Linked DNA regions of Homo sapiens: regions 1, 2 and 4 are each linked to region 3. The links come from fine-mapping of genetic effects on gene expression. A gene starts in region 3. Each other region holds a variant in brackets. All regions are shown on one strand. Distances are from middle to middle.

What was found. PIP is the estimated chance that this variant, and not a neighbour inherited with it, causes the effect.
Region 1: its variant is the best candidate, but not a certain one, in a credible set for the expression of LETMD1 in whole blood (TOPMed, PIP 0.70).
Region 2: its variant is the best candidate, but not a certain one, in a credible set for the expression of LETMD1 in monocytes after LPS (Fairfax 2014, PIP 0.56).
Region 4: its variant is the best candidate, but not a certain one, in a credible set for the expression of LETMD1 in tibial nerve (GTEx, PIP 0.83).

The regions. Positions count from the first base shown.
Region 1 is chr12:51,145,452-51,151,377 of GRCh38, forward strand. All of the region lies in intron 1 of TFCP2 (transcription factor CP2), which reads right to left. Among named protein-coding and RNA genes, the nearest start is that of TFCP2, 25 kb to the right of the region's middle. The variant C/T (reference allele first, on the strand shown) is at 2,818.
Region 2 is chr12:51,087,559-51,093,484 of GRCh38, forward strand. No RefSeq gene overlaps it. Among named protein-coding and RNA genes, the nearest start is that of CSRNP2, 6.9 kb to the left of the region's middle. The variant AT/A (reference allele first, on the strand shown) is at 3,153.
Region 3 is chr12:51,045,017-51,050,942 of GRCh38, forward strand. LETMD1 (LETM1 domain containing 1) reads left to right here and starts at 3,311. Exons shown (of 9, transcript NM_015416.5): 1 at 3,311-3,462; 2 at 4,018-4,169. The coding sequence starts at 3,341. RefSeq lists enhancers at 2,586-2,705, 2,756-2,835, 2,926-3,195, 3,017-3,555, 3,306-3,355 and 1 more.
Region 4 is chr12:51,909,623-51,915,467 of GRCh38, forward strand. It overlaps ACVRL1 (activin A receptor like type 1), which reads left to right. Exons shown (of 10, transcript NM_000020.3): 2 at 2,848-2,913; 3 at 3,477-3,728; 4 at 3,937-4,148; 5 at 4,352-4,451; 6 at 4,817-4,963; 7 at 5,603-5,845. The coding sequence starts at 2,853. Among named protein-coding and RNA genes, the nearest start is that of ACVRL1, 5.0 kb to the left of the region's middle. RefSeq lists enhancers at 3,701-4,534, 5,180-5,845. The variant C/G (reference allele first, on the strand shown) is at 3,281.

The DNA.
Region 1 (5,926 bases), 100 kb after region 3:
GCTACTTGGGAGGCTGAGACAGGAGAATTGCTTGAACCCAGGAGGTGAAGGTTGCAGTGAGCCAAGATCACACCACTCACTGCATTCCAGCCTGGGTGATGGAGTAAGACTATCTCAAAAAAAAAAAAAAAAAAAAAAAAAAGATTTTCTTAGACAAGACTCAAAAATCATATACCATAAAAGATTCATAAATTATACTAAGTTAAGAACTTTAGGCCAGGCATGGTGGCTAATGCCTGTAATCCCAACACTTTGAGGTAGGTCAAGGTGGGAGAACTGCCTGAGCCCAGGAGTTTGAGACTAGCCTCAGCAACATAAGGAGACCCCCGTCTCCACAAAAAATACAAAAAATTAGCCAGGCATGGTGGTGCATACCTGTGGTCCCAGCTCCTTGACAGGCAGAGGCAGGAGGATCACTTGAGCCCAGGAGTTCGAGGCTGCAGTGAGCTGTGATTGCCACTGCACTCCAGCCTGGTCGACAGAGCAAGACCCTGTCCCTTCCCCCTCCCCACCAAAAAAAGAACCTTAGAACCAAAGACACATAAAGAGAGGGAAATGACAAGCCACAAACTGGCAGAATATACTGACTACATACAAAACTGACAAAAGATAAGTATCTAAAATATTTTTGAGGCTGGCCATAATGGCTCACACCTGTAATCTTAACACTTTTGTAGATTACTCCGTCTCTACAAAAATAAAAAATTAGCCAGGCATGGTGGCATGCTCAGCTGTTGTCTCAGCTACTCGGGAGGCTAAGGTAGGAGGACTGCCTGAGCCCAGTAGTTTGAGGCTGCAGTGAGTCAAGCTTGTGCCACTACACTCCAGCCTGGGTGACACGGCGAGATCCTATCTCAAAAAAAAAATTAATAAAATATATTTAAGATTCCTATAAATTAATATGAAAAAGGCCAAACCTCCCTCCCCCACCCCATACCCCCAAAAAACTCAAATACTTACTTCTTAGGAGAAAACATCAGTGGCCCACAAACATATGAAAAGGTGCTGGCCTCATAAGAAATTAGGAAAATACAAATTAAAACCACAATAAAATACTATTCCACACAAAAATTACAACAGTGAACAATTAAAATAATGGCTAGGATGCAGAACCGAAACACCTGACCTCTAAGTATACTAGAACAATAATTTAGCATTATCTTGTAGGAAGATACAGCAAGCTCATAATCCAACAATTCCATTGCTCCTATAATCCCTCTGCCTGGAATATATTTCTCCTCCACCTTTGCAGGGCCAAATCTTACCCTTCTTTCAGATACCACCTTAGGAGGCAGAAGTAGTATTTCTGTGTTCTGAATTCCTATAGCACTTCAAGTGCTTTTAGCATATTTATTTCCAGCCTGTATCACATTTATTTATATACATGTCTTATCTTCTCCATCAAATTGTAAGCAAATGAAAGACAGAAACCTGTTTATTTAGATTCAGCACCTGCATATGGGAGCATATGGTGAAGACAAAGCTACAGAATCAAGTTGTACAAAACCAAGTACATAGTAGGCACTCAAGTGTTTGCTGAATGATAGAGTAAAAATCTGCTTAGTGACTGAGGGAATAAACCAGGATTTGCTGTGCATATAAAACATTAGGCCGGGCACAGTGGCTCACGCCTGTAATCCCAGCACTTTGGGAGCCCAAAGCAGGCAGATCACCTGAGGTCGGAAGTGCGAGACCAGCCTGGCCAATATAGTGAAACTCCATCTCTACTAAAAATACAAAAATTAGCCAGGTGTGGTGACACATGCCTGTAATCCCAGCTACTCGGGAGGCTGAGGCAGGAGAATCACCTGAACCCAGGAGGCAGAGGTTGTAGTGAGCCGAGATTGCGCCACTGCACTCCAGCCTCAGCAAGACTTCATCTCAAAAAAGAAAGAAAGAAAGAAAGAAAGAAAATTAAACCATTGGTGAAAGGAAAACTGGAACACCAATTTGTGTACACAAAGTCCCAAGTTTATTCTGTTAGGTTCTACTTGAGGCATAGTGAGAGTCGACTATCAGCAACAAATGGAAACTACTATGAACAAGGCAGATAAAGGGAGACCAGGATAGGAAGAGGTGGGGGGGGAAAGAGAGAAGGTGACAAAGTAGAGGGAAGGCTGGGATAACTGGCAAGCCACATGTAGGAGAATGAAACTGGATCCTCATCTCTCACCTTATACAAAAATCAACTTAAGGTAGAGCAAAGACTTAAATCTAAGACTTGAAACCATAAAAATTCTAGAAGATAACATTGGAAAAAACCCTTCTAGACACTGACTTAGGCAAAGACCTCATGACCAAGAACCCAAAAGTAAATGCAACAAAAACAAAGATAAACAGATGAGACTTAATTAAACTAAAAAGCTTCTGCACAGCAGAAATAATCAGCAGAGTAAAGAGACAACCCACAGAGTGGGAGAAAATCACAATCTATACATCTGACAAAGGACTAATATCCAGAATCCACAAGGAACTCAAACAAATCAGCTAGAAAAAAAACAAACAATCCCATCAAAAAGTGGCTAAGGATATGAATAGACAATTCTCAAAAGAAGACATACAAATAGCCAACAAGCATATGGAAAAATGCTCAACATCACTATCAGGGAAATGAAAATCAAAACCTCCATGCAATACCACCTTACTTCTGCAAGAATAGCCATAATCAAAAAATTAAAAAAAAATAGATGTTGGCATGGATGTGGTAAAAAGGGAACACTTTTATACTGTTGCTGGGAATGTAAATAGTACAACCACTAGGAAGAACAGTGTGGAGATTCCTTAAAAAACTAAAAGTTTATCTACCATTTGATCCAG[C/T]AATCCCACTGCTGGGTATCTACCCAGAGGAAAAGAAGTCATTATATGAAAAAGATACTTGCACACGCATGTTTATAGCAGGACAATTTGCAATTGCAAAAATATGGAACCAGCCCAAATGCCCATCAACAAGTGGATAAAGAAAATGTGGTGGCCGGGCGTGGTGGCCCACACCTGTAATCCCAGCACTTTGGGAGGCGAGGCGGGCGGATCACAAGGTCAGGAGTTTAAGACCAGCCTAGCCAATATGGTGAAACTCCATTTCTACTAAAAATACAAAAATCAGCCAGGCGTGGTGGCGGGCGCCTGTAGTCCAGGCTACTTGGGAGGCTGAGGCAGGAGAATCACTTGAACCCAGGAGGAAGAGGTTGCAGTGAGCCGAGATTGCACCACTGCACTCCAGCCTAGGCAACAGAGTGAGACTCTGTCTCAAAAAAAAAAAAAAAAGAAAAAGAAAAGAAAATGTGGTATATAGGCCAGGTGCAGTGGCTCACATCTGTAATCCCAGCACTTTGGAAAGCCGAGGTGGGCGGATCACCTGAGGTCAGGACTTTGAGGCCAGCCTGACCAATATGGCGAAACCCTGTCTCTACTAAAAATACAAAAATTAGCCTGGAGTGGTGTCAGGCACCTGTAATTCCAGCTACTCAGGAGGCTGAGGCAGGAGAATCTCTTGAACCCAGGAGGTGATGGCTGCAGTGTGCCAAGACTGCGCTGCTGCACTCCAGCCTGAGCAACAGAGCAAGACTCCATCTCAAAAAAAAAAAAAAAAACAGAAAGAAAGAAAATGTGGTATATATACACCATAGAATATTACTCAGCCATAAAAGGAACGAAACAATGGCATTTGCGGCAAGCTGGATGGAACTAGAGCCCATTACTCTAAGTGAAGTAACTCAGGAATGGAAAACCAAACATCGTATGTTTTCATTCATAAGTGGGAGCTAAGCTATGAGGTACAAATGTTTAAGTATAATACAATGGACTTTGGGGACTCAAGGGGAAAGCATGGGAAGAGGTGAGGGGTAAAAGACTATACATTGGGTACACTGTACACTGCTCAGGTGATAGGTGCACTACAATCTCAGAAATCACCACTAAAGAACTTATTAATGTAACCAAACACTACCTGTTCCCCAAAAACCTTAAAAAAAAAAGTAGAAGGAAGGAATGGCAGCACTGCTGCTTTGTAGGTTGTTTTCCATAATAAGAGGAGGACAAGAAAAGTGTAGGAAAGCAAAGAAAATTTATGAACTTACAGTAAAAAGGAGTAACAGCATAACTTAAAAGAATGAAGAAATAGATTACGTGTTAGATAAATTTTTTCTTAATTTTTTTTCTTTTTTTTCGAGATGGAGGCTCGCTCTGTCACCCAGGCCAGAGTGCAGTGGCACGATCTTTGCTCACTGCAATCTCTGCCTCCCAGGTTCAAGCGATTCTCGTGCCACATCCTCCTGAGTAGCTGGGACTACAGGCATGCATCACCACGCTCAGCTAATTTTTTGCATTTTTAGTAGAGACGGGGTTTCGCCATGTTGGCCAGGCTGGTCTAGAACTCCTGGCCTCAGGTGATCCACCTGCCTCAACTTCCCAAAGTGCTGGGATTACAGGGTGAGCCACCGCACCTAGCCTTTAATTTGTTATAAGGTATTTTAGACATAAAAAAGATAAAACAGTGTAACAAATGACTGTGTACACTCTAGGCAGCTTAAGATACAGCATTAACAGTTGAAGCCCCCTATATTTTTCCTCAGTTACATCCCCTCCAACTCCCAGAGGCAACATTATCCTGAATTTGCACTTAATCATTCTCAGCATGTCTTTATATTTTTACAGCAGTGCCATCTTTTAAAAAGTAGTGAAGTATGGCTGAGTGCAGTGGCTCACGCCTGTAATCCCAGCACTTTGAGAGGCCAAGGCAGGCGGATCACCTGAGGTCAGGAGTTTGAGACCAGCCTGGCCAACATGGCGAAACCTCTTCTCTACTGAAAATACAAAAATTAGCTGGGCGTGGTGGCAGGCACCTGGAATCCCAGCTACTTGGGAGGCTGAGGCATGAGAATCGTTTGAACTCGGGAGGCGGAGGTTGCAGTGAGCCGAGATTGTGCCACTGCACTCCAGCCTGGGCGACAGAGCGAGCCTCCATCTCGAAAAAAAAAGAAAAAAAATTTTTTTTAAAAAGTAATGAATTAAAAATTCTTTTTAATTTTAAAATTTAAAAAGTAATGGATAACGTTTGCAGCAAAACAGGGCGAATCTCATCTAAATACACTGTCCATCATAACAGACTTAGAATGAAAGGGAAAGTAAAGAACAGTAACAACTGACCAACTCTGAGACAAAGAGAGAAGATTTGGAAGATGGACAGATGATAATTGAAGTGGGGAGAAATGAAGAAAAAAAGTACTGAAAAATCACAGCAAACAACAACAACAAAAGGGCAAAAATCAGTCTCAATAAAGAGACTTAGGTCTCAATGAAGAGAGATAGTTGCCTCAGGAACTGCTATAGTACTTGCCTTTTTTAAGAAAATGGAGATAGTGAATTCATTCATTCAACACATCAGCGCAAACTACTTATTAGGCACTATTCTAACAGTAGGCAGAGGGTAGAGAACAAAAGAAAATCCCTTCTTTTATGAAGCATGAAGTTGGGGAGAGAAGCCAACAAATGAATTACACATCAGATGTTAGGGAAGAAATAAAGCAGAGGGGGTAAAGAAAGCAAGGAGTGCTGGTGAGGGGGAGGAGGCTCTTGCTATTTTACGTGAAGGACATTAGAAGGCCTCTCTGATAAAAAGACATGTGAGCAGAAACCTAAAGGAAGTAAGGAACATACAGGAATGTTTCGGGAAGAGTAACTGCAAATGCAAAGACACTGAGGTGAGACTGGAGCCCTAAGACCAGGTGCGGCTGCAGCAGAGCAAGCCAGGGGAAGAGTATATTCAATGGCTGGAGGAGCAGACCATATGGATCCTTGACAGACCTGTGGCTTTTATTCAGTGAGATGTGAAGCCACTGGACAGTTTTTAGGAGAAAAGTAGCATGATCTGATGAACATTTTAAAGAAAGTGATCATATAATTTATCACTAAAACAGGTACACCTTGG
Region 2 (5,926 bases), 43 kb after region 3:
TAATACTTAATTCATAGGGTTAAGATGATAAAATTGAGGCTTGAAAGATTACTCTGTCCAAAGTCATATCCAGGAAGAGAAGGATCTGGGATTTGAATGCAGGCCTATCTGACACCAAAATATATACTGTATCAACTACCTCTTACCACCAAAAGATAAACGAGAACACATTCCCCAGAGAGGTGAAAATAAATAGGACAGAGGATATAATATGTTGAAATTCTTAGAGAAAAAGAGTTAAAATAAAAATCTAAGGCATTGTGTTTGTTTTTCTGAAAAGGTATCTGTAGACTTAGCCCTAAAGTTGTTATGCTACTTCACTAATTGACATTTAATTATATTATATTCCAGATCTAGAGAGACAGGCACCTCTTTGTGACTAATTCCACACTAACAAAAAGAGAACAGTATGTGTAAATCTGAGAAAAAGAGTGCCACAGCAAACTGAAAGCACAAACACCAAAGAAGTCATATGCGCCATTGCACTCCAGCCTGGGCGACAAAAGTGAAACTCTGTCCTCCCACCACACAAAAAAAGGAAAAGAAAACAAGAATCTACATTAATTAAAATGTGCACCTCATCTTAAACATATCTAATACATGAAAACAGAGATTCGCATAATAGGTAAACCAGTTATAACTCATGTCCCAAAATACCATATCAGTAAAAAATAGTACAATAAGACAACAAATAATACAATAATATTAGTTTAAATAGCAAGTTCCCTTATAATTGATATTAATCCAATTGAAAACTTTAATTCATATAAACTTTTCAGTGTCTGAATTTGAAAATGCAAATGCTAGACTTACTTGAAATTTTTGGCCAGGCGCGGTGGTTCATGCCTGTAATCCCAGCACTTTGGGAGGCGCAGGTGGGTGGATCACAAGGTCAAGAGTTCGAGACCAGCCTGGCCAATATGGTGAAACCCTGTCTCTACTAAAAATACAAAAATCAGCCGGGCATGGTGGCAGGCGCCTGTAATCTCAGCTACTTGGGAGTCTGAGGCAGGAGAATCACTTGAACTCGGGAGGCAGAGCTTGCAGTGAGCCGAGATAGTGCCACTGCACTCCAGTCTGAGTGACAAAGCAAGACCCCACCTCAAGAAAAATAAATAAATAAATAAATTTTCAAGCAAGATAGATTTTAGCTTAGGCCTATGTTCACAAGGAACACTACAGGGGAAATGCTGTAGAGAATGTGTGAACAAAGACGTGAAAAGAAGAAGGAAGAAGTGGAAATAGATGAAAATTCAAGGTTGAAGATAAAATACAAGGTCACTAAAAGAACCAGGAAGGAGAAATAAAGTATGCAGAAAAAACAGTGCTGGTGGCATTACTCCCATGTCACAAAGGGCATCTTTCCCAACTCACTCCATTTTGCAGTGGTAGGATATTCTTCCTCATTTAAGTTTTGGAGTTGGTATAATGAAACAAAAATTAATCACAAACTAAAAGCAAGCATTCTAGCAGGGAAAGCCTTAACTCACAACTAAGAAAGTAGAGCATTTGCAGGAGAAGCAGAATGATGTAGGATTACTCCTAATGACATAATATATAGGCTGGGTGTGGTGGCTCACGCCTATAATCCCAGCACTTTGGAAGGCTAAGGTGGGAGGCTCGCTTGAAGCCAGGAGTTCAGATCAGCAAGGACCACATGGCAAGATCCTGTCTCTACGAAAAATAAAAATTAGAGCTGGGCACAGTGGCACATACCTGTAATCCCAGCACTTTGGATGGCTGAGGTGGGAGAATCGCTTGAGCCCAGGAGGTCAAGGCTGCAGTGAGCTATGATGGTGCCACTGCCCTCCAGCCTAGGCAGCAAAGTGAGATCCTGCCTCAAACAAAACAAAACAAATTTGTTGGGTGTGGTGGCACATGCCTGTAGTCCTACCTACTCAGGAGACAGGCGAGAGGATCACTTGAGCCTAGGAGTTCAAGGCTACAGTGTGCTATGATCACACCACAGCCTGGGCAACAGAGCAGGACCCTGTCTCTTAAAAACAAAAAAAGAAGCTAAGAAAGAAATAGGCTGGGCGCAGTGGCTCATGCCTGTAATCCGAACACTTTGGGAGGTCAAGGCTGGTGGATCACTTGAGGTCAGAAGTTTGAGACCAGCTTGTCCAACCCGGTGAAACCCCGTCTCTACTAAAAATATAAAAATTAGCTGGGCGTGGTGGCACATACCTGTAATCCCAGCTACTGAGGAGGCTCAGGCAGGAGGATCGCTTGAACCCAGGAGGCAGAGGTTGCAGTGAGCTGAGGTCGCGCCACTGCACTCCAGCCTGGGTGACAGAGACTCTGTCTCAAAAAAAAAAAAAAGGAAAAAAAGAAAAAAAAAGAAATATATATATATATATATAAATGGGGCAGCTAGGTGGGACAATTGTGCCATTCCTACTGAGACTGGAGTTCTCATAAGACCCATGGCGGCCATAACAGATCAAATTCCTGTAGAGGAACCATCCGTGACCAAGGAAGCAGACCAATAATTCAGTAAAATGATAAAATGGTTCTTCAATTTCAGTTCTCCTGTCCCCCCAAATCTGGAATTGTTAGGTTTGGCCAGAGAAAAAAGCTACAAGAGGGAGAAGCTCAATCCTGACTTCAAATATTTGGACTCTAAATTGCTTTCAAGACTGAATACCGAAGCTCTGCTCAGCCCTTCATGGTGATTTGCAAGACAGTTCAAATCTCTGCGGTAACCCTATACAAAACACTTTCTCAGAATATGTGGGGATACACAGGGTTTTGAGAACACTCCTCCATTATGCATACATTAGAAATGGTTGGTGCCATTATCTCACACCTTCTTTACTTGCCAAGCTTCCCCCGGAACCTCCAGCTCAGAGATCATACTCTGCCCGCACAACATACCCAGTACCTGGACTTCCAGGAATCAGAACTTCAGCCCCTTCATGTGGACCTTACTTTTTTGTCACGTCTTGGGTTGTCTTTTTAAAATTTCTTTTTTTAGATAGAGTCAGTTTCTTTTTCTCTCTCTCTTTTCTCTCTTCTCTCTCTCATACAGGCTGGAGTGCAGTGGCACAACCTCCGCTCACTGCAACCTCCACCTCCTGGGTTCAAGCAATTCTTGTGCCTCAGCCTCCTGAGTAGCTGGGATTCCAGGCACCCACTACCACGCCCGGCTA[AT/A]TTTTTTTTTTTTTTTGTATTTTTAGCAGAGACGGAGTTTCACCATGTTGGCCAGGCTGATCTCAAACTCCTGACCTCAGGTGATCTGTCCGCCTCAGCCTCCCAAAGCGCTAGGATTACAGGGGTGAGCCACCACGCCCAGCCATGTTTCCTCCATTTATATGACTTCTTAAATAAATCATTTACGTGGGCAAACATTCTCATTGGGCCATAACATTGAACAGTCAATCTCATTACTCAACAGCCACATTTCACGTACTGACTACTCAATCCTTAGAGTCCTGCAACAACTTCCCTCCCCTTTTATTAATATTTCGCAATAACTCCCTTTTAATTATCAAGTCTTTATACAGCAGATTTTTCTACATGGAACCTATTATACTTCAAAGGAGTACAGGCAATGGTAAGTCAAATAGGATGCTACGCCTCTTCTCTAAATGGCCTAGGCCGGTATGGTGGGTGGCTCACACTTGTAATCCCAGCATTTTGGGAGGCTGAGGCAGGAGGATGCTTGAGCCCAGGAGGTCAAGACCAGTATGGGCAATATAGGGAGACCCTGTCTCTACAAAAAAATACAAAATTAGCCAAGTGTGGTGGCACACACCTGTAGCCCCAGGTACTTGGGAGGCTGAGGTAGGAGGATCGCTTGAGCCTGGGAGGCAGAGGCTGCAGTGAGCTGAGATGGTGCCACTGCGCTCCAGCCTGGGTGACACGCACACACAAAAAAAGATGCATGTTCAAATATATGTGACCTAAATGGCATCCATACAGAATAACCAGTTTTTAAAAAGAATGATGTAGAACTAAAAATTCTAGTATAGTAAGATATTCAAGATATGCTAAATACAAAAATCAAATTGCAGGTCATTAGTATAACATGAGCCCATCTGTGTGTGTGTGTGTGTGTGTGTGTGTGTGTGTATGTGTGTGCATGTGTGATGGGGGAAATTCTTTGCAATGATTACCTCTACAGAGTGGGACTAAGAGGTAAGGGGGAAAGTTATATGATACCATTCTTTATTGTTTGAATTTATCATTCTGTGTATTACTTTCATAATGAAAAAGCTAGTATAAAATTTTCACTTAATTGAAAGGATTATTAGTGAACATATGCAATGTTTTAAAGCAAACTGAATAATTACAGTGTTCTAGCACTATGCCAATTCTTACCAATTATACATCACTGGCACAATAAAAATTTTTTGTAGCTAAAGAAAGCCTAAGAGATTTTCTGGTAAATTTAAGGATCTATAATTTCAAAGTTGTATAAGTTCATTTCCATAAATTCGAAGACTACTCTAAAAAACCCTGACTTCAGGTAAAAATAGTTAAGTGTAATTTATAGTCAATATATTAATAAAGGCCAGGCGTGGTGGCTCATGCCTGTAATCTCAACACTTTGGGAGGCCAAGGCAGGAGGACTGCTTGAGGCCAGGAGTTCAAGACTAGGTTGGCAACATGGTAAGATCCTGTCTCTACAAAAAAACATTAGCAGGGCTTCGTGGTGTGTGCCTGTAGTCCTAGCTACTTGGGAGGCTGAGGCAGGAGGATCACTTGAGCCTGGGAGTTTGAGGCTGCAGTGAGCTATAACTGGCACTGCACTCCAGCCTGGGTGACAGAGGGAGATATAATTCTTGTTTTGTTTTCTTTGAGATGGGGGTCTTACTTCGTCACTTAAGCTACAGTGCAGTGGCATGATCACAGCTCACTGCAGCCTCCAACCCTAGGCTCAAGTAATCACTGCCATACCTGGCTAATTTTTTTAACTTTTTGTAGAGATGGGGGGGCGGGTCTCACTTTGTTGCCCAGGCTGGTCTTGAACTCCTGACCTGGCTTAAAGTGATCCTCCCATTTTGGCCTCCTAAAGTGCTGGGCTTACAGGCATGAGCCACTGTGCCTCATCTATATATTTAATTTTATGCATCATTTGCAGTAAGAGTCACAAATGCAAAGATTTGGAAGAAACCTTAAAAGTCACCTAGCCTTGGGCCAGGTGCGGTGGCTCACACCTGTAATCCCAGCACTTTGGGAGGCCGAGGTGGGTGGATCATGAGGTCAGGAGTTCAAGACCAGCCTGGCCAACATAGTAAAACCCCATCTCTACTAAAAATAGAAAAATTAGCATGGCATGGTGGTCCGTGCCTGTAGTCCCAGCTACTCAGGAGGCTGAGGCAGGAGAATTGCTTGAACCCGGGAGGCAGAGGTTGCAAGTGAGCTGAGATCAGGCCATTTAACTCCAGCCTGGGCAACAGAGTGAGACTCCGTCTCAAAACAAAAAAGTCACCTAGTCTTGGCCAGGCACGGTGGCTCACACCTGTACTCCCAGCACTTTGGAAGATGAGACGGGGGATCACTTGAGCCCAGGAGTTCAAGACCAACCTGGCAGGCAACACAGTGAGACCTCATTTCTATATTTTATTTTATTAAAAAAAATTTTTTTGAGACAGTCTTGCTCTGTCACCCAGCCTGGAGTGCAGCAGCCTGATCTCAACTCATTGCAACCCCACCTCCCAGGTTTAAGCAATTCTCATGTCTTAGACTCCCAAGTAGCTGGGATTACAGGTGTGTGCCACCACGCCCAGCTAATTTTGTATTTTTAGTAGAGACAGGGTTTCACCATGTTGGCCAGGCTGGTCTTAATCTCCAGGCCTCAAGTGATCTGCTTGCCTCAGCCTCCCAAATTGTTGGGATTACAGGCATAAGCCACGGTGCCCAGACTCATTTCTATATTAAAAAAAAAAAAAAAGAAAAAGGCATCTAGTCCAACTTTCCT
Region 3 (5,926 bases):
TGAAGAACAGCTAGAAGATAGAACCAACAAGATGCATGTGTGTGTGTGTGTGTGTGTGCGTGTGCACGCGCGTGTGTGTGTGTGTGTGTGTGTGTGTGTGTGTGTGTAGCGGGGGAAAGGGGGAAGAGGCCTAAACACTAAATAAATATCTCAGGAAAGGGCTGGGTGCAGTGGCTCAAGTCTGTAATCCCAGCACTTTGGGAGATCAAGGCAGGGGAATTGCTTGAGTCTAGGAGTTCAAGATCAGCCTGGCTAACGTGGCAAATCTCTATCTCTACTAAAAACACAAAAATTAGCTGGGCGTGGCGGCATGCGCCTGTAATCCCAGCTACTTGGGAGGCTGAGGTGAGAGGACCACTTGAGCCCAGGAGATCAAGGCTGCAGTGAGCCATGATGGGGCCACTGCACTCTAGCCTGGGCGACACAGCGAGACCCTATGAAAGAAAGAAAGAGAGAAAGAGAAAGAAAGAGAGGAAGGAAAGAAAGAAAAGGAAGGAAAGGAAGGAAGAGAAAGAAAGAAAAGTCTGAGGAATGACCTGTGTTCCTGCCACATTCTTTCATTGCATGAAATGCCTTCCCCTCTACTCCATCCTTTCAGACACAGTTCCTTCCTATTTTCTCCACAAAATTCTGATTTTGTCTCCTTTCCAAGAGAGTTCCAGAATTTTAGAGCTGAACATTCTTGAGTAGTTGACATGACTCAGAAGCTACCTGAAGATGGCTGGGCACGTTGGCTCACGCCTGTAATCCCAGCACTTTGCGAAGCTGAGGTGGGCAGATCACCTGAGTTCAGGAGTTCGAGACTAGCCTGGCCAACATGGTGAAACCGCGTCTCTACTAAGAATACAAAAATTGGACTGGGTGTGATGGCTCACACCTCTAATCCCAGCACTTTGGGAGGCCGAGGTGGGAGGATCACGAGGTCAGGAGATCAAGACCATCCTGGCTAACATGGTGAAACCCCGTTTCTACTGAAAATACAAAAAATTAGCCAGGTGTGGTGGTGGGCACCTGCAGTCCCAGCTACTCGGGAGGCTGATGCAGGAGAATGGTGTGAATCCGGGAGGCGGAAGTTGCAGTGAGCCGAGATTGCGCCACTGCACTCCAGCCTGGGCAACAGAGCGAGACTCCGTGTCAAAAAAAAAAAAAAAGAATACAAAAGTTGTCTGGGCATGGTGGCGGGCGCCTGTAAACCCAGCTACTTGGGAGGCTGAGGCAGGAGAATCACTTGAATCCGGGAGATGAAGGTTGCAGTGAGCTGAAATTGCGCCACTGCACTCCAGCCTGGGTGACAGAGTGAGACTCTGTCTCCAAAAAAAAAAAAAACAAAAAAAAAAACTACCTGAATATGAAGACCATGTCTTAGTCAACTTTTTTTTTTTTTTTTTTTTTTTTGAGACAGTCTCACTCTGTTGCCCAGGCTGGAGTGCAGTGGTGCGATCTTGGCTCACCTCAACCTCCGCCTCCTGGGTTAAAGCGATTCTCCTGCCTCAGCCTCCCGAGTAGCTGGGATTACAGGCGCCCACCACCACATCCGGCTAATTTTTGTATTCTTAGTAGAGATGAGGTTTCACCATGTTGTCCAGGCTGGTCTCGAACTCCTGACCTCGGGTAATCAGCCCGCTTCGGCCTCCCAAAGTGCTGGGATTACAGGCATGAGCCACGGCGCCCAGCCGTCTTAGTCAACTTTCTATCCCGTCCACCCCATCTACCCAACACTTGTGAAGATCCAGGGCCATCTTTTAAAACTTTTCCTCTGACTGCACGAGTGGTACAGTCATTAATAACCTGTGCTAATATAAAGCTCTGTGACCCATAAAGCATTATACAGATGTGGGAGCTTTCACAGCTGTATTCTCTTTGGATCCTCAAAGATTTCTTATAAAGTAGGTACTATTATAAGGGAAATAAACTCAGAGCTAAAGTGACATATCCAAGGTAACATTCACTAAAACAAACGTCAATGCCAAGATTGAACCTATATCCAGGGAACCCACATGGGATGCTCTACCACCTTCCATGAAGAATAAATATTCATATATATCCAAGAGGACTGTTAATTCTTGGAGGCAGTTAAGTACCACTTCTGGGAATCCTTCTTAGTTTCAAGTATGAATCTATTCAAACATGTTTACTGAACACCTACTATGTGCTAAGTAAGGCACCTAGTGTTGGAGGTGCAGCAATGAACAAGGCAGAGAAGATGCTTACCCTCATTCTAGTTCAGGGAGCTGTCAAACAAGGACACAAATACATAAACACTGTAAGTGACAGATGCTACAAAGAAAATACAAGGCCGGGTGCAGTGGCTCACGCCTGTAATCCCAGCACTTTGGGAGGCCAAGGCTGGCGGATCACTTGAGGCCAGGAGTTGAAGACCAGCCTGACCAACATAGTGAGATCCCGTCTCTACTAAAAATACAAAAATTAGCCGGGCGTGGTGGCGGACGCCTGTAATCCCAGATACTCGGGAGGCTGAGGCAGGAGAATCGCTTGAACCCGGGAGGCGGAGGCTGCAGTGAGCCAAGATCGCGCCACTGCACTCCAGCCGGGGCGACAGAGCAAAACTGTCACAAAAACAAAACAACAAAACAAAACAAAACAGAGTAACATGAGAATAAGTGTGAAGTGTGTCCTTTTCGCCGGCACTGCTTCAGATAGGGTGGTCACAGAAATCCTCTCAGAATAGTAACATTTAAGTTGAGACAGAGCTTGGTCTTCGGTAGGTGCTTAACGAAAACCATTTTCCCACAAACTTAGTTCTGGAAACGACAAAGAGAGGAAAAAGTGTACTCAGTCCGCACAGGGGCCGCTCCCAGGCCTCCAACCTTCGCCGCCAGACTGACTGGAAAGTGGACAGTTCCCGGCCTATCCACGCCGGCACCATTAGAGGGCGCCGCGGGTCCTCCTAGCCCCAGGCACTGGCAAACTGACATCTGCTACCTAACAGTCGAGGCTCCGACGCCCCGAGTCCAGGCAGAGGGCAAGGGCGGCGCTGGGAAGCCCTGAGGCCCTAAGGAATCGCGGAGGGTCACTGGGCGCCTCAAGGACAGGGTGCCCTCCGCGTCGCAAACCCACACCAGTGGCATAAGAACTCGCTCCCTCTGGGACACCCTGTTTCCGGCGCCTTTAAACCTGGAAGTACTGCTGTGTCCAATCCTGGCCCTCCTTCCGCACTTAGTCTTTGAGTCCTTCCCTCTCCTGGCTTGTGCTGGAGCCAAGCAGGCTATGGCTACCAATCAGCGCTCAGAAAAGACGCATGCGTCTTCGAACGAACGCGACGTACGGTTAACTTTGACCCAAAGACAACCTCTTCTCTCCCGCTTCTCTCGCTGTGAAGATGGCGCTCTCCAGGGTGTGCTGGGCTCGGTCGGCTGTGTGGGGCTCGGCAGTCACCCCTGGACATTTTGTCACCCGGAGGCTGCAACTTGGTCGCTCTGGCCTGGCTTGGGGGGCCCCTCGGTGAGGGACCTGTAGCGAGAAAAGCATTTTTGACGTCCAGGCTCTTTCAGTGTCTCAACCTTGCTTGCATTCTGTCTCTTAATTCTCAGAGTTCCACGCCTTGGCCCTGGAATTTTTATTCTTCTGTTCAGGATTCAAACTCCGATCCCCACTAGTGACCCGGCTTCCTGACCCTCTGTACTCTCAGTGCCCCATATTGTCTGGTTTCCCCGCGTGTCCTGAGCTCATCTTTCAGCCTCACTTTTTCGGCTCAGGTTTTACCGCTGCTATCTCGATTCCACCTCTTTCTGACTTAGCCTGCAGTTCAAATTGTCCCACAGGCATTGCGCTCTCTCCAGAGGCATACCCTGAGTTACTTTCCTGCCTGGCCTTTGCCTGATTTGTGTTTCACAGTCTGATTGCCTATCTCTTCTTGACCCCAAGACCTTCCTTGGATTTCAGAAGTGTCAAGCCTTGGGATACAATCTCCGAGACTCCTGCTTTACATTAGGGACTCAAGGCGTGAGGGAGCTTCTAGGACTGATTCCCAGATAGTCTCTTTGATCTTCCTTGTAGGTCTTCAAAGCTTCACCTTTCTCCAAAGGCAGATGTGAAGAACTTGATGTCTTATGTGGTAACCAAGACAAAAGCGATTAATGGGAAATACCATCGTTTCTTGGGTCGTCATTTCCCCCGCTTCTATGTCCTGTACACAATCTTCATGAAAGGTAAAAACGAAACTACAATAGAAATTCCGGAATCAGCTCTTGGGCAGGGTCAAAGAGTTAGCATAAATAAGATCATTTGCAGGTTCTGCTATGGGGATGTGAGCCGAGATATCTTATATTTCATAAATGCCTGCGCCTTAAACTAATTCCTATAAATTAGCACTTCTTGAGAATGTTTCTAGAAAGATGTTATGAGAAACAACTTATGACAGCAACATGAGGGAGGGAGAATATAGGTATGTTCTCGTACTTTCTTAACCACACACCTGGCTATAGTAGAAATTTTTTGCCTTGCACACGGCAGGGATCTGTGGCTGTATAGACCTGCCCTGTGATGTATCAGTTGACTTACCCATAGGAAAATGAGGTCTAACCCTTGTTATGAATCTATATTAGGTAGTATGTTGTAGTGGCAATAGCCCTACATAATACTTGGTTTCTAAATGTTTTGTTTCAAATCAGAGATCCTTAGTTACTAGGAGAAGATATGTATCGTGTCAAGTGTCTACTCTGGAGCCAGATTGCCTGATTCAAATCCCAGTTCGTCACTGTGCGATTGGACTAATTAATTAACCCCTCTTTCCTTGGTTTTCTTATGTGTAAAATGGGAGTAATGGAACCTACCTATTTATCACATGATTGTGAAGACTTTAAAAATTGATACATGTAAAGTACCTAGAACAGGTCCTGATCCCTAGTAAGTGCCAAGTAAATGTTAACTTATTTTCATCTAAATGTTACCTAACAGTATTATAAGTTGGTGCAAAAGTAATTGCGGCTTTTGGCTTTCAGTGGCAAAAACCACAATTGCTTTTGCACCAAATCTATAATATGCTCTATGCTTTTATCATAACACTATAATAAACTACATTGTCAAATCTGAACATTATCATAATTATTACTAGCTTCATGGACTTGAAAAATTACTTATCCTTAATTTGTAGAGATAAAATTGGCTGCTTTTTCTGTTTTCATGTAGATAAATAGGATCAAATGAGAGAAAGGGATGAAAGCATTTGTGTTTGTTTTTAAACTTTTTATTATGAATTTTTTTTTTTTTTGAGTCTCACCGTGTCGCCCAGGCTGGAGTGCAATGGCATGATCTCGGTTCACTGCAACCTCTGCTTCCCGGATTCAAGCAATTCTCCTGCCTTAGCCTCCCAAGTAGCTGGGAATACAGGCGCCTGCCACCACACCAGGCTAATTTTTTTATTTTTAGTAGAGGTGGGGTTTCACCATATTGGCCAGGCTGGTCTCTAACTCCTGACCTCGTGATCCGCCTGCCTCGGCTTCCCAAAGTGCTGGGATTACAGGCTTGAGCCACCGCGCCCGGCCAACTATTATGGAAATTTTTAAACACACACAGATGTAGAGAGAGTAGTGTAACAAACTTCCATGTATTAACCTCACTTCATTATCATAACTCATGGCTGCCAATCCTATTTATATACTTGCCTTATGTATTATTTTGAAGACAATCGAGACATCATATAATGACATGTAAATCATTGATAAATATGAAAGCATTAAAGAAATAGATGCAAGAAGCCGGGCGCGGTGGCTCATGCCTGTAACCCCAGCACTTTGGGAGGCCGGGGCGGGCGGATCATCTGAGGTCGGGCGTTTGAGACCAGCCTGACCAACATAGAGAAGCACCGTCTCTACTAAAAATACAAAATCAGCCAGGTATAGTGGCACATGCCTGTAATCCCAGCTACTAGGGAGGCTGAGGCAGGAGAATCTCTTGAACCTGGGAG
Region 4 (5,845 bases), 860 kb after region 3:
GGGACTCATCTAACCCCAAACAACTGGAGGAATAACAATGACCAAGGAATGATTTATTATCAGCAATTTAAGTTTATTAAGACACGCTCAGTGACTATGGACAAGAAACTGAACATCTCTGAGCCTCACTTTCCCCCGTTGGACTGTTGTGATGATTAAATCAGATAAACCATTCAAGTTCAGTACTTAGCACATAATTAGTACTCAGAGAAGGTTAACTGTTATTATTAAGTATTTCATAGTGTTTAGCTAACGTTTGAAATTAGTTTAACGTCTGTAATTTCTGGCCAACAATAGTGATGCTTCTGTCAGCAGGAGATCTTTCACAAAGTTTTGCTTAGAAGTGAAAGGATCCTGCCAGGCCCCAGGAGTCTGTCTGTGCTACAGTCAGATTTCAGGGTAAATCGTACAGAGTCAGCTCTGAGTTTGGACTGGTCGGGACTCAGCATCCTCCTGTACTTGATCTCACACTGGGTCCAGTTAAAAATTGGACAGTCCCAATTTTACTCCATCACATTCCCAGGATTAGACCATAGATGGGTTCTGCAGATGCAGACAGCCTCGCTCCACAGTGTCACCACGTCCCAGCTTTGGTGTTTACCCTTGGCTGTCCCTTCTGTAGTAGATGGGGAGTATCCTGGGTGGGAGTGAGTGTCCCCTCCCTCTGCATCCCACTCCCACTCACCCAGCAGGGCCCTGTACAGCAAAATGAAAGCAGAGGAACCAGACTTAGCGTTGTGCCCACACAAACTGATCAGAACTCCCTGGGGAACTTTTAAAAAATGCATGTTTCTTGCTGATTCCAGGACTGAATCAGAGTCTGGAGTGAGGGTGAAACCAGTGAATATGCTTTTCTCAGTGAGCACTTCAGGTGATTCTGATGCGTGATAAAGTAGAAGGAGGGTGGACTGGGGCACGGCCAGAGAAGTAGAGGTACGGACAGAGGATCCTAGAGGAATGCCGGATTTTAGCCTTATTGTTAGCCACTTTTTCCTTTCCACCTCAAACCCTCTCCTTTGCAGCTTTCTGGGCTAGCAAAGGCTGCCAAGGATGGCTTCCTGCTAGTACCCCAGTGGGCAGATTCAGCTCCTCTAGGGTGCTCTCTCCATCCCATCCCACCGTCAGTCCTGCCGCACAGTGCTAGCCAGAGTCCTCACTGGCTGCGGGAGGGGCAAGAGGCAGGAGGTCAGGCAGAGGCTGGGGACACAGCTGCAGCAGCCCAGGGCTCTGTTTCCTCCCCCAGCCTGGGCCTCTGGGGCAGAGGAAGCCCAGGCAGGAAGGCCAGGCCTGCCACCAGCCAGAGAGGCCTATGAAGCCCCCCTACCCCACCCCTAGCCATACTGCCCTCAGAGCCTCAGCATCTTGGGTCTTCATTTGGCACCATTCTTAGACTATGGGCTTTCTGAAGCCTCTGTGGCCATGTGCCCAGCCCTGTCAGGCTCACCATGTCATGCCAAAGGACAGTCTCCCTGCCTTGTGCCCTGCCTGAGGATCCAGTCCCCAGACACACACCTGCACATGCTCCACCATTCAGAAAGTCCTGTTGCTGTCTGACCAGGGTCCTTCTTGCTGCAGCTTTAGCCAATATCTTCTGGTTCTAAACCTGTGAGAAATGAAGACTGGGTGGCTTCAGAAGCACTAGTTGGTGTGGGACCTGGATTGGGGACTATCATAGACCAGAATTACTCCCCCTAACACTCTCCAACAAACTTCTGGAAAAGTTCAACCCTAGTCAGCCATGGAAGGTCAAACATTCAGTGTCTAAGTGTGTTTCACTTCCCCTGCCACATCACTGGCCCTCCACCCACCCTTTCCTAGATGGCAAGGGGAAAGAAGGGGGCCAGGGAACAGCTCCGAGAGGGCAGCTTATACTCTGGTGAGCTTGCAGAGAGGTTTCTCTACACCTGGCATGACCCTGCCCCGTCCGAGCTTTGCATGGTTGTTATAGCCCTGAGGGCTCAGACATGGGCTGCCACCACTGGATAGGGACAGAGCGAAGAGAGCACTTGATTAGGAGTCTGGAAACCTGGGATGTACGCCTGCTGGTGCCAGTGAGTCCTGTCTGACCCGGGACAAGTCTTCTTCCCTGTATGAGCCTTACTCCTCTCTTCTGTAAAACAAGGAGCTGGATTTTGTGATTCACAGGATGTCCACCTAGAATTCTGTCATGTGGGTGTCCCAGGCACAAGGAACTAAGGGTAGCAAGGAACTAAGGGCATATTTAAAAAGCCCCTCCAGACCTTGTGGCTGCTGCAGCCCACCCTGAAAATATGCCCTCAGTTCCCTGCTGTGCGTGACTCCTGCCTGTTCTATCCAGACCCCAATCTAAACAATCTTGATTCCTGTTCCTGGCTTGGCAGGACCCTGAATGGCAGGAAGCGAAGACAGGAGCCTGTTTATGTTTGAGGCAGCCAGGGCTGGGGGGGCATTGAGAAAGGGTAGGCAGGGGTGGAAGCTGTGAGGGAGTGGGAAAGAGACACAGAACAGAAGGGGAGCTGCTGGAGAGATGCTCCTTCTACCCCAATTGGGTGCTCCCTGCGGCTCTCCCAACCTGCCTGCAGTCTGAGCTCAGCAGCAGGAGTGCAGAGCTAGGGTTTCCCCAAGCTCTCAGTCACTTAAACATTGCTCTCCACCCTTCACCTCTAACAGGATGGTTTCCATGGGGAAGTGAACCAGGACTTCCCCTGCAGGCCCCGCCCCAAAGCCAGGCGGCAGGGAGTAGGGAGGCGGCCTCCCTGCCTCCCCTCCAAAAAAAACTCTGTGATTTCCTCTGGGCAGGAGGGAGCCACGGCCAGCGGCTGTCACACTTCATGGCTCTTACTCCACCTCTCTTGCTCCTCTCTGCAGGGACCATGACCTTGGGCTCCCCCAGGAAAGGCCTTCTGATGCTGCTGATGGCCTTGGTGACCCAGGGTGAGTACTGGGGGAGCAGTTAGGAAACAGGAACCTGGATACAGAAAGGGCTATCTGGGCCCAGATCAGCTCTGCCTGGGGCTGAACTTGAGAAGCTGGGGAGAATGTAGGAGCTTGACTGGAGAGTGGAGGACAGTGAGGCTCCATTAGACTCAGTCCCCAGCTACCCCAGCCCTCCTTTGCTCTCCTCTTGATCCAGACCTGCAGGCTGGAGCTCTGTCAGACTAGGGTGGAAGCCTATATGTGGGGTGGAGGGAGAGCAGGTGTTGGCAGGCCAAGCCTGGGAGAGCACTCAGGGCTGGGGCTGGGGGCCCAGCCCAGCCTAGAACTGGGAGGGGAGGACCTAGGAGCCAGGAGGGGACAAAAG[C/G]CTGCTTTTCAGAGTGTCAGCTGCTCTGAGGGGAGGGTTCTGAGGGAAGGATGACTGAGGATGAAAGTAAGAGACCAAAGCTTCAAGGTGTTTGTCTGAGGGGTCAGACGAGAGGGACAGTAGGACAGAAATGGGTGTCGGGCTCAGCCTGGGGGAGCTGGGACCACAGTGGCTGAGCTTCCGGTGTGTCTTCCAGGAGACCCTGTGAAGCCGTCTCGGGGCCCGCTGGTGACCTGCACGTGTGAGAGCCCACATTGCAAGGGGCCTACCTGCCGGGGGGCCTGGTGCACAGTAGTGCTGGTGCGGGAGGAGGGGAGGCACCCCCAGGAACATCGGGGCTGCGGGAACTTGCACAGGGAGCTCTGCAGGGGGCGCCCCACCGAGTTCGTCAACCACTACTGCTGCGACAGCCACCTCTGCAACCACAACGTGTCCCTGGTGCTGGAGGGTACGTCCAGCTGCCCTAGCACTCCCTCCCCATCTTCTTGGCCCCTGCCCTCCCTTCCCTCCTTTCCTCTCATGCTCTGGCCAATAAAGGGGCTGGGGGCGGGGGAGCGGGTGGGCAGGACTCTGGGATCTAACTGGCAGAGTGGTCTGGCCCGAGGTGGGGGGAGCTGACCTAGTGGAAGCTGAGCCTCAGTGTCCCCCTCCCTCAGCCACCCAACCTCCTTCGGAGCAGCCGGGAACAGATGGCCAGCTGGCCCTGATCCTGGGCCCCGTGCTGGCCTTGCTGGCCCTGGTGGCCCTGGGTGTCCTGGGCCTGTGGCATGTCCGACGGAGGCAGGAGAAGCAGCGTGGCCTGCACAGCGAGCTGGGAGAGTCCAGTCTCATCCTGAAAGCATCTGAGCAGGGCGACAGCATGTTGGGGGTATGGGCCTGGGGACCTGGGACACAGGGTGTAGGAGGGGCAGATAGGAACTGCAGAATCAGAGGGGTCACCCAGAGATTAGAGCCGGTGGGGAGCTGGGCGAGTGAGGAGCTTGCAGTGACCCAGCAGGTCCCAGGTCGAGGATAGAGAAGGGGGCTGTGGCTGGTTGTGGCAGCCTCTCAGTGGCCTCTCCGTACCCCCAGGACCTCCTGGACAGTGACTGCACCACAGGGAGTGGCTCAGGGCTCCCCTTCCTGGTGCAGAGGACAGTGGCACGGCAGGTTGCCTTGGTGGAGTGTGTGGGTGAGCAGTGGGTGAGCCCGGTGGATGAGGACCAAGGGCTCTCATGAGCCTGGAGGGGTGAGGGAGTTTTTGGCTACTGGAATCACAGGCGGTGCCAGGCCTGGGTCAGAATTGGAATTCTGCTGGGCAGGGAGTGGGCTGGAGACGGGCCAGGGCTAGGTTCTTCTTTCTGCAGGACCGGGGTGGAACGAGAGGCAGCTGGGGGTGGCCTGCCACTGGGTTTGGGTCTGGATTAAGTTAAACCTAAGGGTCTGGGGTTCTGTGGGTGGGGTGGGCGAGGGAGGCAGCGCAGCATCAAGATGGGGGGCTCTTCCAGGGCTCTGTGTGCCCAGTGTGTAACCCTCACCTTCCCCTCTGGCCATCAGGAAAAGGCCGCTATGGCGAAGTGTGGCGGGGCTTGTGGCACGGTGAGAGTGTGGCCGTCAAGATCTTCTCCTCGAGGGATGAACAGTCCTGGTTCCGGGAGACTGAGATCTATAACACAGTGTTGCTCAGACACGACAACATCCTAGGCAAGGGGAGAGGCCAGCTGTGCCAGGCCTGGGGCTTTGCCCCCCTGCACTCAGGGCTCAAGTTTGCAGACCTCCAGACATTAACAGAACCCTGAAGGACTCTCAGCCCACCTGCAGCATCAACCTCTTTTTTTAATTTAATTTAATTTAATTTAATTTAATTTAATTTAATTTAATTTTTGAGACAGGGCCTCGCTCTGTCACCCAGGCTGGGATGCAGTGGTGCAATCTCACTGGAGCCTCAATCTCTTGAGCTCAAGTGATCCTCCCACTTCAGCCTCTTGAGTAGCTGGGACCACAGGCATGTGCCACCATGCCCAGCTAACTTTTTTATTTTTTGTAGAGACGAGGTCTCCCTATGTTTCCCAGACTGGTCTCAAATTCCTAGGCTCAAGCAGTGCTCTTGCCTTGGCCTCCCAAAGTGTTGGGATTACAGGTGCAAGCCACTAAGCCAGGCCCAGACCCAACCTCTGACTCCAGCTCTGTCTCTGACCTAAGCCACATCAACCCCCACCCCCAGACCTAGCTTAGCAGTGACCCAGTCCATTCCCTCTCCCCCAACCCCACCCTGACCCTGACGACTCCAGCCTCCCTTAGCCCCAGCCCCTTGGCTGAGTCACCCAACCTTTCTGCACACAGGCTTCATCGCCTCAGACATGACCTCCCGCAACTCGAGCACGCAGCTGTGGCTCATCACGCACTACCACGAGCACGGCTCCCTCTACGACTTTCTGCAGAGACAGACGCTGGAGCCCCATCTGGCTCTGAGGCTAGCTGTGTCCGCGGCATGCGGCCTGGCGCACCTGCACGTGGAGATCTTCGGTACACAGGGCAAACCAGCCATTGCCCACCGCGACTTCAAGAGCCGCAATGTGCTGGTCA